Linked DNA regions of Homo sapiens: region 1 is linked to region 2. The links come from fine-mapping of genetic effects on gene expression. A gene starts in region 2. The other region holds a variant in brackets. All regions are shown on one strand. Distances are between the middles of the regions.

What was found.
Region 1: its variant is fine-mapped to the expression of EEF1AKMT2 in hippocampus (GTEx, PIP above 0.99).

What each region holds. Positions count from the first base shown.
Region 1 is chr10:125,046,958-125,055,409 of GRCh38, reverse strand. The region is part of intron 2 of CTBP2 (C-terminal binding protein 2); the gene reads left to right. Among named protein-coding and RNA genes, the nearest start is that of MIR4296, 18 kb to the right of the region's middle. RefSeq lists enhancers at 2,882-3,638, 6,837-7,420. The variant T/C (reference allele first, on the strand shown) is at 4,950.
Region 2 is chr10:124,787,879-124,796,330 of GRCh38, reverse strand. It overlaps EEF1AKMT2 (EEF1A lysine methyltransferase 2), which reads left to right and starts at 4,444. Exons shown (of 7, transcript NM_212554.4): 1 at 4,444-4,607; 2 at 5,993-6,058; 3 at 7,174-7,288. The coding sequence starts at 4,498. RefSeq lists enhancers at 3,045-3,767, 3,831-4,140, 3,768-4,492 and a silencer at 4,271-4,330.

The DNA of each region.
Region 1 (8,452 bases), 260 kb before region 2:
CCAGGGCCACCCAAGCATCTGGGCACATGAGGGCATGGCACCTGCGTGGTTTTTGCAGCCTTCCCATTTCTGCCCCTTGTGTTGCAGTTGAGGCCAGCTCCTGCCTCGGCTCATGGTGTTCCCTGTCTCAGAAGCGGCTGTGTTTGTGCCCTGAACCTCTGTGCAGACTGCCTTCAATATTTACCTACATGCTCTTTTTCTCTGAGAGCTCAGACTTAATCGTAGCTGCAGTTCAAGGACCACTTTTAAGAAAAAGCAAGAAGGTCTGTTTACCCAGTGAATTACCATTCAGAGGGGGGTCTAGGAGGCTGCATTCTTAATGTGGGGCCCAGGCTCTGATAGATCTTTTTAATGTTCCCCAGATTTATGGGTGTGCGTGAGTCAGAGTGGAGACCCCAGGGTGCCTGAGTTAACTCTGTGCATGTTGAGCGTAGCCCTGGAATTTATTTTAAGCATCTGGGGTAAGTGAACATAACAGCAGACTTTCCGTTCCTTCAGCTTGTACGCATTGCTGTTGTGAGGAGAATAGCGTTTACCCCAAGAGTTTACAGAAGTGGATATATCACAGACCTCATGTCAGTCTGGGCAGCGGAGGATTTAGAGGGTTTCGCTTGTTTTTTGTTAGTGTTCTCTGTCCTGTAGGTAGTATAAACTAGACGCCATGCATTACAAATGTATTACTGTTTTTATCTTTTCTGTTGAACTGTACTGTGTCAGTGACCATAGTCAGTGTGATAGTTTGTGTAAAGGGTTGTATTAGTTATCTATTGCTGTGTGACAAATTACCTCAAAATGTAAAGGCTTAAAACAACAAAACTTTATTGTCTTGCACTGTCTATGGGACAGGAACCTGCACAGCTTAGCTTGGTGCCTCCTGCTAGGGCCCTGACAATGTTGCATTCAGGATGTCAGTGGGGTTGTGGTCTCATCTGAAGGCCCGGCTCGGGGAGGGTTCAGCTTCTCATGGACTGTTGGGACTGAGGGCCTTGGTTTCCTGTTCCGTGGGTCTCTCCTTAGGGCAGCTGGCATGGCAGCTGGCCTCTGGGAGGGAGGGAAGTTGGCAGGGAAGATGGGAGGATGCCCACACTGGTAGCCACAGTCTCTTTTAACCTAATCTCAGAAGTGACATCCCCTCACCTGTGTATACTGTTTACTGTTTGTTTAGAAGCAGAGCTTGTACAAGGACATGAATTCCAAAAGGTTGGGGGTCCCCGGGGGCCATGGGATTGATTCTTTTTCTGGCATCCACAGTGTAGATGGGATCTGCCTTATTCAGGGAGAGGGTCATGTTCAGCTTGGAAAGCTCTCAGTGGGCCTCTGGGGAGGGGCAGTGATTCAGAAAAGCCTCCATGGCCCTCAATTCATGGCCCTCTACTGTTTTGTGGGCACGCCTGTGTCACCGGTGGGTGGCTGTGCAGAGCTATCCGGCTTCGGATTCCCCAGAAGTCCTGTAGGGGCTGGAAAGGTCACTGAGATAATGTGTGTGCAACCTCAGTGAGGGTCCCTGTGTGGAATCTGATCCTCTGCCGGGTCCCTGGTTTCTTGTGGAGCTGGGCATGAAGGGCAGTCTGTGGCCAGTGCCCTGCCCTTCGGAACTATGTGGCATCTCTCCTTTTCCAAGTGAAGTTCCCATTTCCCTTCCTGTCTTCCCACTCATCAGACCCGTCTACACCTTCGGCTCTGGGCTGAGATCTCCCCTCCCATCTTCAGGAGCGTGTCTGAGATGTTCACCCCGGCATCATCTGAAGTGCTGTCTCTGAAGCCCAGAGGGTCTAACCTCAGACCTTCCAAAAACCAAAACCTATTAGCCTCACCCCTTCTCTGCCTCTCTTGAGCTGAGCCTGTTGATTTCCCAAGGGCCTTGGGAGTGGAGCAGGCTGAGCCCAGGAGCCACTCATCCCTGGGTGTCCTCCCTGGGAGAACCTCTGGGAGGGGCCTGGAGAGGACAGAGGGCCTTCCTTGCACTGCTGTGTTGGGGGATGCCAGGAGGGGCTGCAAGAATCTGGACTGCAAAAGACCTTTCACTGTGTCCTCTTGCTCTCTGTTCGGCGGGCAGTGAGGTTGCCATTCAAAAGATAGAGTGGCGGGTCATTTTCAGTGGGCTCCTCCTGCTCCCATGTCCTTTGTGTTGACAATGCACTGGATCCTTCCTGGAGGTGAGGGAGCCCCGGCCCTCCAGAGATGAACCCCCAGTCGTACTCCAGAAACCTGGGAGAATGCTGCACCTGCCCTGAGGGGCAGCCTTGGCTTCGGTGGCCCCGTGGATTCATGCTTGAATTATCCTGGAAGTTGTGTGGGGTTTTGTTTTCTTTTTTTTTCTCTCTCTTCGAATAAGCCTTTTGTACTCCTAAAGTTCTGTGTTTTGAAGAAATAAGTACACTTGGGGTCAGCGGCTGCATGCTGCGTGATGCGTATTCATAAACTTCATTCTGGGGGAAGAATTTGAGAATGGACCGGAGAGAATGCTTTGACAGTCAGAAAAGTTTTTCTCAAAATTTCCCATGAACTTGGGAAGTGTGGAGATGCACGTGGCTGTCCCAAAGCCATATGAATGGAGTTGATCCAAGCGCCCAATTCCAGCCTGAGATCCAGTGGGCGCTCCGTCTGGGCTCCCATGGGAATGTGTTGGGGCTGCCGCCAAGCAGGAACCGATGGTGCCTGTGATTGTGGACCCCAGATTCCTGCTGGAGCCCACACTATGATACACAAAGCCCGGACTGAGGCATTCAAAGGCACAATCACCATCCGTTTGCTGCTGGACCCCAAGGGCGTTCTTGATAGGTTCTTCCCTCCTCTGTGGGCCGTGTGGGGATCACCTTTCTTTGATCTCCCAACCCTGGCATGAGGCTGATGGAATCTTCTGGGTGTTGTTAACACAGACAACACAAAGGCAGGACGGTCCAAACAATGAAATCCCAGACATGGAGCACAGAAAACAGCTTAAGGGAAATAAGGTTAGAACATTCCCTCCTGGGTCTCTCCCCTGGCGAACACAGGTCTGAGCCTCTCAGGAGGCTGCTCCCTGCGTGTTGTGGGGGTCAGCTCTGGGACCTGCAGCCCCTCTGACCACTGCTGGGAAATGGCCACGGGCACACCTCAGGCCGTGCGTGTTGAGCTGTCTGGGGCGAGATTGGAGGGTGAAGGTTGCCTCTCCCCATAAAGCAGGCTTGGGTTGACTTGGAGCTTTTTAATAAAGCCAGGATTCTGCACAGATTGCTGCCCCTGCATCACAACCAGGCTTCCTGCCGGGGGGTCCTGAGCTTGCAGGTCTCAGCAGCGCAGACCCCCACCGATAGGTGCGAGCCTCCCGTCTGTTGGCATGTGTTGGCGTGCTCGGGTTGCTGAAAGAAGGTTCCACAGACAGGCCAGGACAGAGATGTGTTTTCTCAGAGTTCTAGAGGCTGGAAGTCTGAGATAAGGCATCCGCAGGGGTGCTTCCTTCCAAGGATTTGAGAGAAGCCCTGTCTCCGTAGCTTTTAGATGCCATCTTCACGTCGTCTTCCCCCTGTCTGTGTCTAAGTGTCCAACTGTCCTCCTTTTTATGAGAATATTCGTCTTGGATTAGAGTCCACTCTAATGACCTGTTTAATTTGATTGCCGCTGTAACGACCTTATCTTCAAATAAGGTTCCATTCTGAGGTCCTGGGGCTTAGAACTTTAACATAATTAGGGGGGTCCATAATTCAACCTGTAACAGTCAGTGTGTGACCTGTGGGCATTTAATTGAAAAGGTTTCTTTTTTTTTTTTTTGGTTGGTTGGTTTCTATTTTGAGACAGAGTCTCACTCTGTTGCCCAGGCTAGTGTGCAGTGGCGTGATCTCAGTTCACTGCAAGCTCTGTCCCCTGGGTTCAAGCAATTCTCCTGCCTCAGCCTCCTGAGTAGCTGGGATTACAGGTGCCCACCACCACACCTGGCTAATTTTTGTATTTTTAGTAGAGATGGGGTTTTGCCATGTTGGCCAGGCTTGTCTCAAACTCCTGACCTCAAGTGATCCACCCACCTTGGCCTCCCAAAGTGCTGGGATTACAGGCGTGAGCCACCATGCCTGGCCTGAAAAGGTATTTTAATTGCTTTGGGGACTTAATTGACATCAAGACCATAAATGTTCAGGCTTGGATGACTATGGCAGGAAGTACATGAGGAGTGGGCCTCCAGGGACCTGCCTTTCCCTAAGGGTCTCCATGTACCGTTTTCGAATGGTGTCTGGGGTGGGGACATAAACTTGGGATCCAGGTATCCTGAGTCCTCGGACCTTTTTTCCCATTTATTTGTCTGGCTTGGGCTCTAACATGCACAATATCCCCATAAAATGTCTCAGAGCAGATTTTTAAATGGCCATTACCTTGTCAAGAATTCTCCAGTGGGATTTCATGTAAAATTAGGATCCCTGATGGTAGCTCACGATGAGCTGTAATTCTCCACATAGGTGACTGTATTCATGGGCACCATCCACCCTCCTCATCCAGATGTCTCCCTCTCCAGAGGACTTTGGTGCAGGAGGCCTGTGAGGACCCCAGTTCATTATGACAAGGTTGCAGTTCTCTAGAAGATTCTCATCAGGAGCCTTGTCTACTCCTCCCCAGCAACCTCTTTCCACTAACTTATATTTTAGCTATAGCCTGGAACATTCTGAGCTATGATGAGTGTTAAAATGGGGTGGTGTACTCGTCAGAGACCTGGAGACCGGGACTGGAAGCCACTGTGAAACAGGTGAAATGATTCAAGAAGACAGCTGAACCCCAGCGACACCCCATAACAGAAACAAAAGAACTCTTGTGAGCCGCACCCCCACCCTTCCTTTTCCCGGCATTTGATAGGCAAAGATGAATTTGTGTGACACGGGAGTGTCCCACCCTCCTCCTCCCCATCAGACTCTGCGAGACGCCCGCTCTCCCTTTGGGTGCAGTCATGGATACCAAACAAAGCCTTCATCCCTCTGGGTTTCCGT[T/C]ACGTAGCCGTCTTCCACGTGAAAACCGTGTTAAGCAAAATGAATAGCTGCAAGCTATTTTATTTCATGTTAAATAACTGTGGATAAGACTAAGATTTTTCTCTTTATGACTCAGGTTGAAAAGATAAGGTCTGGGAAGCGGTGTCTTTGAATCTAGAGATTTTCTGGAGTTAGGGATGTCTGATTTCTACATATCATTTCCACGACCTGTCGCAGGAGACAGGGTACCGGTGCCCCATGATGCTGCAGAGCGGCTTTTGGTGATAGAGACGCATTATGGAATGTGTATACTTGTAAGGACCCAGGCATAGAGTATCTGCCCTCATAAAGCAAACATAATCCTCCACTCCTGAGGTCTGAGTTGGCTCTCCTGGATGCCAGCCTTTGCATGATGAGTGATGCCTTAGTTGAAATGAAGGATGGGCCACCCCAGGTGCCTGGAGCACTTTTATCCCAGTGCATGCCCAAACTACTGGTGTCCTAAACAGTTGGCCCCACAGACGTGGGGTTTGGGGAGCTGAGCTGTGCACTGGGGCGGTGGCTACACTGGCCTGGTCACGTCAGGCTGGGCAGAAGAGTTGGAGCGGGGTGGCTCAAGAGTCTTGATTTGGTTTGACTCTATAACTTGGCTGGCATGGAACTTGGAAGGCTGGGTCCCCACTCCTTCAGCAGGTGGGCCCCTTTGGAGGGAGCCGTTCCTGCTTGTTTTTGAGATAATCTCTCCGGACACTTGGCAGCCCAGCCAGCGTTTGCTTTGATAGCTTATCTCTGCCCGTCCAGCTTGAACTCCCCTTTCCCACCATCTTCGACCATGCCTGCGGGTCTCCACCTCTCCCTGGCCACCATGTAGCCCTCATTCCTTGCTGAAGGTTCCACACTGAAGTGGGTTGTACAGAGGAACCTCGTCCTGGAAAGTGAAAGCAAGTCCCACTGAATGTGACTTGGAGCAAGCTTGTGAGGTATTCGTGGCATCAGAGCCATGAAGAGAAGGTGGAGAGGCGCTGCCTGGGGGAGGTGGCACCGGAGCTCAGGTGGGGGCTCCCCAGGATCCGCACGTGTGTGGGGTCTATCCAAAGGCATCCTCTGCCAAATCAGGCCAAGCATGTGCTGTATCACTCAGTGGTATCCTGCTGCTGTGACAACTGTGGCGACTTTGAAATGATGGTAAGAAAGAGTGTCCTGTGACGGTGGGGACTGAATTAGGCACATCTGTCTCCCGTAGTGGGGCATTAGTGGGCTACACCAGCCCCTCCCATTCTTCTCCAACCAGAAACTGTCAGGTACCCTGCCAGTGTGGAGAAGAGGTGGCCAGCATCTTAGAACTTGGTGAAAGGGGTGTTGTGTGTGTATGTGTGTGGTCAGGTGGACGTGTGTGTGTGTGTGTGTGTGTGTGTGTGTGTGTGTGTGTGTGTGTCTGTGGTCAGGCGGGCAAATTGAGGCCAGAGAGCACATTAATGTGCATTCTGGCCAGAATCAATTCCTGGGGAAAGTTGGAAAAATCTCCTTTCCTTTCTAAATTAGTGTCTACCAGGAAAAAAAGTTGTATATCTTAAGATCATACTTGTCTCACAGCAAACTGATCCTGGTGTTGAGTCAAATTGAGCCTGTTGATCAGGTGTGCATAGTGCTCCAGAGGCTGTCATTTGTAATGGAAAGCCTAAGGGGCATTTGCGGAGCAGCCCAGCCGGCCCCTCCCCAGCACCGTCCTCTCTGTGTGTGTTCCGTCTCTGCCAAGTTGTTTCCAATTTTCAACACTAACTGGTTGCTGTCAGCAGACGTAATGGAAAAATCATTTGTCAGGGTGGCCCCTGGCTCCCTGGGGTCGGGGACTCCACACCCTGGGCAGGGAGCCTCCCTCCTTCTTGGCCTGTACCTCCAGTCACTCCGCTGTGAAAGTGGGACCCCCAGCTAGCGTCTCGGGAGATAAACAAGTAGGCGCTGGCGCTGCATCCCCTTTCCCCTGGCATATCATGCTCCTAGAAACGAAGCATCTGCTGCTGGAACGGTGAGACCTTCTGCCTCTTTCACATCTGGAACTTTCGGGGAAATGCAGCATCTCATCCATGGGCCCAGGCCTTCCCTTCTAGGAGTAGCTGATCTTATTTTCTCCAGGTGCTTGTAGAGCTTAAGTTGGGATAGAAATGAGGATGGTGGCTCATGGCTGTCTCTGCAGCCTCTGGAAGGCCATGCAGGGTGTGCAGTGCCCTCTGCTGGCCAAAGGGCCCCATCGCTGGACACCAGGCCTCCCTTGGGCTGGGCCAGCTCCCAGGAAGGGCTGCAACAGGAAAAGGTCAGCCCACGTGGGGGTTTCCATTGGTTTTGAGAGCAAGCAGAGACTGCAGAGAGCATGTCCTTATACAAGCATTCTGGACCCTACGGTGTCAAGAGATGAGTGGGCTGGGATCTCAGAAGGCCAGTTGGGTTCCCCTAAGGACAGTAGAGGCCCCATAAAATCAGTCGAGGATTCCAGGCCTCTCTGAGGCAAAATTCAAAGGCAAACATCTTAAAAATCTAACCTGAAGATTTTTTTTACAAATTCATATCTCATCATTGCAATTTGTTTGATAAGTAGCTAATTCCTATAATTGCCTTTATTTGATATTTAAATACAAGGGCAATTCATGTGTTAAGTGTAAGCTAAATAATTAAAAGTTAGGAGGATTAAATCTTCCCCCATTTCATATATTAAGACAGCAATGTTTAACATTATCTCATTAATAATTTATTATATACTATATGATACATATAACACAGTGTTCTATAATATGGTTACAATTGACAGTTGAATACATAGTCTAATAAATTGTATTAAGTTTTGCATAGGTTTAGCATATAACCTCCAGATATTTCTCTCCAAGAAGTGTAGCTTGGTGGCTCTTGCCTTTGCAAGTCCTCAAGTTCAAAACCCTTAGTGGCCATCAGTCCCCTGTGCTTTTACACCATGCTGGACACAGCAGATGTATTGTGTGTGCCCAATTGTATTGTGTGTGCCCAGTTTCTCTGCATGACGTTCAGATATAAACATTCTGGAATCATTTCTTGCACACTGTATGTAACAAAAGATGAGTTTTCTGGTGGAACCACTTCTGTCTGCCTAAAATTTGAGATCACTAATTTTTTTTATCTGTTCAACCAGTCTTCTCGGCTACAGATCAAAATTTTCATGCCAGAGTAGGAAAGAGAAAACTAGAAAAGGAAAAATTGATCTGCATTCCTGATTCCTCAAGTCTAAACAGACAGGAATAAGAGGTGTCATTTAGTTTGTTTGCTTATTTGCTTTTATCCCTTTTTTTTTGCTTAACCTTTATTATTAAATAACACTATTAAAACTAATATACAGTTTATTTTTAAGGCATATTTGGAAGACAAGTTCTTTTAAACTGTGTGAAAATCCTAAACACAAGAATGGCTCATTTTCTTTAGCAACAAAGACCAACACTTAATTTCCATTATGACACAAATCAAACAACCAATTAGGAAAATCACAAATTCTTTCTGCTCAA
Region 2 (8,452 bases):
AAATACAAATCTGGAGGGAGAGCGAGGTTGGAATCAGAAGTCACTAACACAGGCATATGAAAAGGTGCTCAACATCACTGATCATCAGAGAAATGCAAATCAAAACTACACTGAGATATCATCTCACTCCAGTTAAAATGGCTTCTATCCAAGAGGCAGGCAATCACAAATACTGGCGAGAACGTGGAAAAAAGGCAACCCTTGTACACTGTTGGTAGGAATGGAAATTAGTAAAATCATAATGGAGAACAGTTTGGAGTTTCCTCAAAAGAGTAAAAATTGAACTACCATATGATCCAGTAATCCCACTGCTGGGTATATACCCCAAAGAAAGGAAATCAGTACATTGAAGGGATAACTGCACACCCATGTTTGTTGCAGCAGTGTTTACAGTAGCTAAGGTTTGGAAGCAACCTGAGTGTCTAACAACAGATGAATGGATAAAGCAAAAGTAGCACATAGACACAAGGGAGTACACAAAAAAGAATGAGGGCCAATGTTGTCTGTCTGCCAAGACAACAGAAACATGATCATTTGCAACAACGTGGATGGAACTGCAGATCATTACGTTAAGTGACATAAGCCAGGCACAGAGACAAACATCACATGTCCTCACTTACTTGTGGGATCTAAAAATCAAATCAATTGAACTCATGGACATACAAAGTAGAAGGATGGTTACCAGAGGCTGGGTAAAAAAAAAAAAAAAAAAAAAAAAAAAAAAAAAAAAAAAAATGAATAAGACCTACTATTTGATAGCACAATAGGGTGCCTATAGACAATAATAACTTCATTGTATATTTTACAATAACTTAAAGAATGTAATTGTATTGTTTGTAACTCAAAGGATAAATGCTTGAGGGGATGGATACCCCTTTCTCCAACGTGCTTATTTCATATTGCATGCCCGTATCAAAACATCTCATATACCCCATAAATATATACACCTATGTACCCACAAACATTTTATTTTATTTATTTATTTATTTTTGAGACGGAGACTCACTCTGTCGCCCAGGCTGGAGTGCAGTAGCGCGATCTCGGCACACTGCAAGCTCCGCCTCCCGGGTTCAAGAGAATTCTCCTGCCTCAGCCTCCTGAGTAGCTGGGATTACGTCACCATGCCCAGCTAATTTTTGTATTTTTAGTAGAGACGAGGTTTCACCATGTTGGTCAGGCTGGTCTCGAACTCCTGAGCTCATGATCCTCCTGCCTCGGCCTCCCAAAGTGCTGGGATTACAGGCATAAGCCACTGCGCCCGGCCCCACAAAAACTTTAAAAAATAATTTTAAAAAATTAACAAAAGAAGTCACTAACAATAAGAATGATAATTAATATCTACTGAACAGACTGTATCAGGCTCTGTTCTACACTCTGTACATGCACGGTCTATGAACTTATCTAATCTTCCTAACAACACTCTGATGTAGGCCGATTTTATTTCATTAATTTTTTTTGCCAGAGAACAGATTTAATACCTAATGAAGTAGGCCCCTTTTATTTTATATTTTATTTTATGTATTTATTTTTGAGATAGAGTCTCATTCTGTCACTCAGGCTGGAGTGCAGTGGCACGATCTCAGCTCACTGCAACCTCCACCTCCAGGGTTCAAGCGATTCTCCTGCTTCAGCCTCCTGAGTAGCTGGGATTACCGTTTCTCGCTCTGTTGGCCAGACTGGAGTGCAGTGGCGGGATCCCGGCTCACTGCAAGCTCCGCCTTCCGGTTTCACGCCATTCTCCTGCCTCAGCCACCAAGTAGCTGGGAGTACAGGAGCCCGCCACCACGCCCAGCTAATTTTTTTTTTATTTTTAGTGGAGACGGGGTTTCACCGTGTTAGCCAGGATGGTCTTGTTCTCCTGACCTTGTGATCCGCCCGCCTCGGCCTCCCAAAGTGCTGGGATTACAGGCGTGAGCCACCGCACCCGGCTGACCTAAAACTTTTAAAGCCTCACTCAGCCCCACTCAAGCTTGCTTTCTCTAGCATCTAGAACCTAGAAAAGATCAAAACAACCGCTTGCCCAGGGCAGCACTAATTGGCCGGGTCATCCGGTGGTTTTATTGCTCTGTAATAAGGTTACCTAAGTTCTTTCTTGAATTTTATTTTATTTTATTTATTTATTTATTTTTGAGACAAAGTTTCACTCTGTCGCCCAGGCTGGAGTGCAGTGGTGCAGTCTTGGCTCACTGCAACCTTCGCCTCCCTGGTTCAAACAATTCTCGTGCCTCAGCCTTCTGAGTAACTGGGATTACAGGCGACTGCCACCATGCCTGGCTAATTTTTGTCTTTTTAGTAGAGATGGGGTTTCGCCATGTTGGCCAGACTGGTCTCGAACTCCTGACCTCAGGTGATCCGCCTGCCTCGGCCTCCCAAAGTGCTGGGATTACAGGCTTGAGCCACTGCGCCCGGCCTTTACTTTAATCATTACGCACAAGGATTTCCATCTGCCTTTTTTTTTTTTTATTATTGGAGACAGAGTCTCACTCTGTTGCCAGGCTGGAGTGCAGTGGCGCAATCTCGGCTCACTGCAATCTCCGCCTCCCAGGTTCAAATGATTCCCCTGCCTCAGCCTCCCAAGTAGCTGGGACTACAGGCGCGCGCCACCATGCCTGGCTAATTTTTTGTATTTTAGTAGAGACAGGATTTCACCATTTTGGCCAGGATGGTCTCTATCTCCTGACCTCGTGATCTGCCTGCCTTGGCCTCCCAAAGTGCTGGGATTACAGGCGTGAGCCACCGTGTCCGGCCTCCTGTCTGCCTTTTATCTTACCCTATCACTAGTGGCTGCCTGAAGATCTCAGAACAGCATCTATAGGAGATGCGCATCCGATCCTAGGAAGGATTTCTGATGCTATTTTATCTTTAGGGACTTGTTACTGGGCTTCTGTCTGCCAAGACAACAGAAACGTGGCCTAGCAAACAATTCCTTTTGGTTGGAAGGCAGTCTCGCTAGGGGCATTTGAGGGCCTTGCCTAGGACATAGGACCAGCAGTATTTCACAGCTACTACAGAAAATACCCCAGACTTTGGCCCATAAGATCTCTTGTATTATACTGCAGATCTACCAATGGCACTCAGACCCAGAGGCAGATGCAATCTCCGGTTCGCGGGTTGGGAGCAGTTTTGTGGAACAAAGACACCGTCTAGTTCTGACATGGTACAGGGAGGAAACACACAGAGGTTAAGACTTAGACAAGAGGCCAGGCGCGGTGGCTCACGCCTGTAATCCCTGCACTTTGGGAGGCTGAGGCGGGAGGATCACTTGAGGTCGGGACTTCGAGACCAGCCTGACCAACATGAAGGAACCCCGTCTCTACTAAAAATACAAAATTAGGCCGGGCGCGGTGGCTCACGCCTGTAATCCCAGCACTTTGGGAGGCCGAGGCGGGTGGATCACGAGGTCAGGAGATCGAGACCATCCTGGCTAACACGGTGAAACACCGTCTCCACTAAAAAAAATACAAAAAATTATCCGGGCGTGGTGGTGGGCGCCTGTAGTCCCAGCTACTCCGGAGGCTTAGGCAGGAGAATGGCGTGAGCCCGGGAGGCGGAGCTTGCAGCGAGCCGAGATCGAGCCACTGCACTCCAGCCTGGGCGACAGAGCGAGACTACGTCTAAAAAACAAAACAAAACAAAATTAGCCTGGCGTGGTGGCGCCCGCCTGTAATCCAGTTACTCGGGAAGTTGAGGCAGGAGAATCGCTTGAACCCGGGAGGCGGAGGTTGCGGTGAGCCGAGATCGCGCCATTGCATTGCACTCCAGCCTGGGCGACAAGAGCGAAACTTCGTCTCAAAAAACAAAACAAAACAAAACAAAACAAAACAAACTTAAGCAAGGCCAGGTGCCTGGGTCGAGGCAGAGCTGAGGCTTATCCGGGCATCCTCTCACTTAGCAGTCTTTCTTCCACAACACACTGATCCCCGTGTTTGGCGTATTGTGGAGAGTTGCAGGGCATTCCTTTCCCTGGACATAAATTTCCACGTCTACCGGTGACATCAAGTCACAAGAGGCCAGAACGCGGTTTTCAAGTCAGAATCTTAGCCAGAAACGAAGTTGGCCTCTTGCCAAGGAGCCAAATAACTGGATGGACGCTCGCACCCGCTTCGCAGACAGGCGCACGCAGTGGAGAGGTGAAGTGATTTCTGCGTTTGGGTAGAGCGGCGTCGGCTTTAGGTGTCCACGGTGCGGAAGCCAGCCGTTTTCCAAAATGCAATACCTCTAATGGTCCCTCACGAACAGCAGTCCCCAAATACAGCCGCTCTTGGACCTCGACGAAGGGGATGCCACTAACGCTGTGGGGAGAGCGCACGGTCCCCGCCGGCGCAGGGAGCCGGGGGTAGAGCAGAGGGCGTCGCGTCCCCATCCCAGCCCCAGCGCGGGGGCTGGAGCAGTCGAGAGGGCGGCCTCCCGCCGCCTAGAGGCGCCGGTCCGCTCGTCCGCTCTGCCTGTGCCCCGTCTCTATGGCGGCCCCAACGGCCGTCCAGGACGTGGAGCGAAATGAGCTCGGGCGCTGACGGCGGCGGTGGCGCTGCGGTGGCGGCGCGGTCGGACAAGGGCAGTCCCGGGGAGGACGGTTTCGTCCCGTCGGCGCTGGGGACCCGCGAGCAGTGAGTGTGACGCTGGGCAGGGGAGGATGAGCCGTGCCGCCCTGCCTGGGCCCCGAGAAGGGGACGGCGGGGTGGAGACCCGGGGCTCAGGGACAGGGAGACCCTCGGGGGCGTGACGGGAGCAGGGCCACCTGGCGGGGGGCTTACGGGGATTTCAAAGAGTGGAATCCCTAGGGGTCGCCCTACGCGGTTAACCGACGTTTCAAGGGATTGGAGCCCAAGGGGCTTGTGGGTGCGGGACAGGCTTTGGCTCCTGGGAGGCCTTTTGGGAGTCTCGAACCTGAGGGCCAGGCTTGGGGGAAAGGGGGAGAGGGCGAGGCTGGCGAATAGGGCTGGTCGGCGAGAGTGAGAGACCGAGGGAGAAGTGCTGGGCCTGGGAGCCGAAAAGGCTGAGTAGGAGGGGAGGGATGTGGGAGCTGGAAGTGGGGTGGGAATAGCGGATGACCCGAGGCGGGAGCGGGGAGATAGTGGGGGATCTTGGGGTGAAAGAAAGCGATCTGACCTCAAACAGACGCTCAGGAATTATTAAATGAATTAATGTGGGTGGATGAATGGCTGCAGGGAACAGTTGGGGAGAGGTAAATTGGCGGGATGAGAGGGAGCAGGGATTCTAGAGAATCATTGTAGGAAAAGAGACGGCAAATGAAAAGGATTCAGAGGGCCGGGTGCGTGGTGGCTTACGCCTGTAATCCCAGCACTTTGGGAGGCCGAGGCGGGCGGAGCACAAGGTCAGGAGATCGAGACCAGCCTGACCAACATGGTGAAACCCCGTCTCTACTAAAAATACAAAAATTAGCGGGGTGTGGTGGCGCACACCTGTAGTCCCAGCTACTCGGGAGGCTGAGGCAGGAGAATCGCTTGAACCCGGGAGGCGGAGGTTGCAGTGAGCCGAGATCGCGCCACTGCACTCCAGCCTGGTGACAGAGCGTGACTCCGTCTCAAAAAAAGAAGAAAAGCGTCCAGAGAAAATTTAAACGGAGGGCTAGAAGACTGGAATAGGCAGAGACAAATAGCACAGGAAAGAGACTGTGTGCCTGCACACTTGAGACCAGATGTGCTTGTTTCATCAAGTTTTGAACTTGGGTCAGGGACTTAGGGATACGTGGACAAATGTCTTTGTGTTTTTTTAGGCTAAAACTTATTGTTGTGCATCAGATATTGTCCTAAATGCTTTACATGTACAGTATAAACGTATTCTGCTTGCCCATGTATTTCCTTCTTTTAACTCAAGGACGTTAAAAGATTGAACTATGTGTATTTATTAATAACACTAGTGATGTTTAAACCTCTGTCATAAATAGCTCTGTAATGTATTAGAAACATACATTTAATTCATAATACAGTTTAATTCAAGAGTCTTGCTTTGCATTTCATTGTTTACATAGTTGGGATGCTGTCTATGAGAGAGAACTGCAAACTTTCCGAGAATATGGAGATACAGGTGAAATCTGGTGAGTTAGGAAAAGAATCAAGTTATAATCTAGAAGATTATATGTATATGTGTGTGTGTTTAAAAAAATACGTATATATTCGCCGGGCGCGGTGGCTTACGCCTGTAATCCCAGCACTTTGGGAGGCCGAGGCAGGCAGATCACGAGGTCAGGAGATAGAGACCATCCTGGCCGACATGGTGAAACCCTGTCTCTACGAAAATTAGACAAAAAATTAGCCAGGCATGGTGGCGCGCGCCTGTAGTCCCAGCTACTTGGGAGGCCGAGGCAGGGGAATCATTTGAACCTGGGAGGCGGAGATTGCAGTGAGCTGAGATCGCGCCACTGCACTCCATCCTGGGCGACAGAGTGAGACTCCATCTCAAAAAAAAAAATGCATATATTCAAGTGCTTATACCCAAAGAAAGCCTAAAAATCCTGGGAACCCTGGATTAAGTCTGGCTTTAGTGGGTAGATTTAAAGTATGTCTCTTCTTTTATTCTTTTTTAATTTTTTACTTTTTTTTTTTTTTTAGAGAGGTGGGGTGTCATTCTGTCATCCAGGCTGGAGTACAGTGGCATGATCATCATAACTCGTTACATCCTGGACCTCCTGGGCCCAGGTGATCCTCCCGCCACAGCCTCCTGGGTAGCTGGGACTATAGCTGCATGCCATCATGCCCAGCAAATTTTCTTTTTTGTAGAGACAGGGTCTCACTGTGTTACCCAGGGTGGTCTCGAACTCCTGGCCTCAAGCAGTCCTCCCACCGTGGCCTTCCAAAGTGTTGGGAGAATGGGTGTGAGCCCTCTTTTAATATCTCACATTTACGTTTGATGACAGCATTTCACCCTATAGTTGTCCTTTGTCAATAAACAATAAAATTCTGAGACACCAACACATACAACTGTTAATGCTGATATAGAGAAATGTTAGTAAATAACATACTGACCTTGTCTATTCTGTTGTATTCCTGGAGGTGGTTTCTCCTAAATTACAGTAGAGACAAAGCTGAAGCAGTCACAGATGTTTTCACTTTCAAATAAGAGTTTGAGCATATGGTATAAATAGCTTAAATGGAATATAGTGGTGACTTTTGCTCTGTATCCCTCAGTTATTTGACTGATTCTCTCTAACAGGTTTGGAGAAGAGAGTATGAATCGACTAATAAGGTGGATGCAGAAACACAAGATTCCACTGGATGCTTCAGTGCTTGATATTGGAACTGGAAATGGTGTTTTCCTGGTTGAACTTGTTGGTACTTTTAGTATTTGTTTGTTAAAGACAAATTTTAAAAGGAAAATTTTTAAAGGCCCTGCAATTGAGGATATTAACCATCTAAATATAAAATAGTAAAGCAGTCATACTTGGAGAAGTCAGATAGTACAAAAGGGAGGCTACATGGATTGTGAGAGAACCTAGGCAATCTGAGTCCTAGTCTTGACTCTTTTGGCTATAGTCTTAACCTTGAGTAAGCCACTTAATTTTTCTAGGCTTCTGTTCTTTCCTAAGGGTTGTGACTAGGTGATTGCTATTGGTTTCTTGTAGCTCAAAACTCTAGAAATGCATATATATATATATATATAAAGATGACCTTTTGCAATTCCAGTAGGACATACGTATCTTATCTTATAGGTAAGCATATGGTTTGAAAAGTGCATTTTGTCCATGGAACTGTGTTTCGGTAAACATTCCACTGCTAGCTAAACCATCACTGTTGTATGCCTGCAGTGTGCTCTTGCTATGCTGTGTGCTGTGGAGGAATTATAAGACTTAGGCTTCATCCTAGATAATTTTACAGTCTTAATTAGTACAGAAATAAACATAAGAGTGAAATTTGTTAAGTAACCACCACATGCCAAGCCTCATGTTTGGCATTGGCAACAGGAAAATTTAGACTTTGTGCTTGAATTGTTTACATTACAATAGAGTATGGACTGACATATGGACAGTTGTGCCATCACTTGATGCATGCAGTAATACACTGAATATAGAAAAGAGGGTGATTAATTTTGGAGTGGAGGGGTAGGGAAGCATCTTGGAGGAGTAAATATCCAAGTTGGGTGGAAATTTCAGGGACAGTTTGGTGACCTAGTGGCGTGTAAAGAGGGAGAAGATTTCAACTAATGGAAATATTATCTAAAGGCCTGAAGGCTGAAGCAGTATTTTATGTTCTGGGCCTGTAAATAATTTGATAAATTGAAATACAAAGTATACGTGGGGATGGACAGACATGAGGATTAAGTTAAAGATAGGAACCATATTATGCTTTGCCATGCTTAAGACCTTCGATTTTGCATTTAGGCTATGGGGAATTGTTAAAATGTTTTTAGTAGTGGAATATGATTAGAAGAACTTGAAATAACCCTTCTTGAAACATTGAGATATAGTGTGTGTACATTAAAGTGCACAAATCAG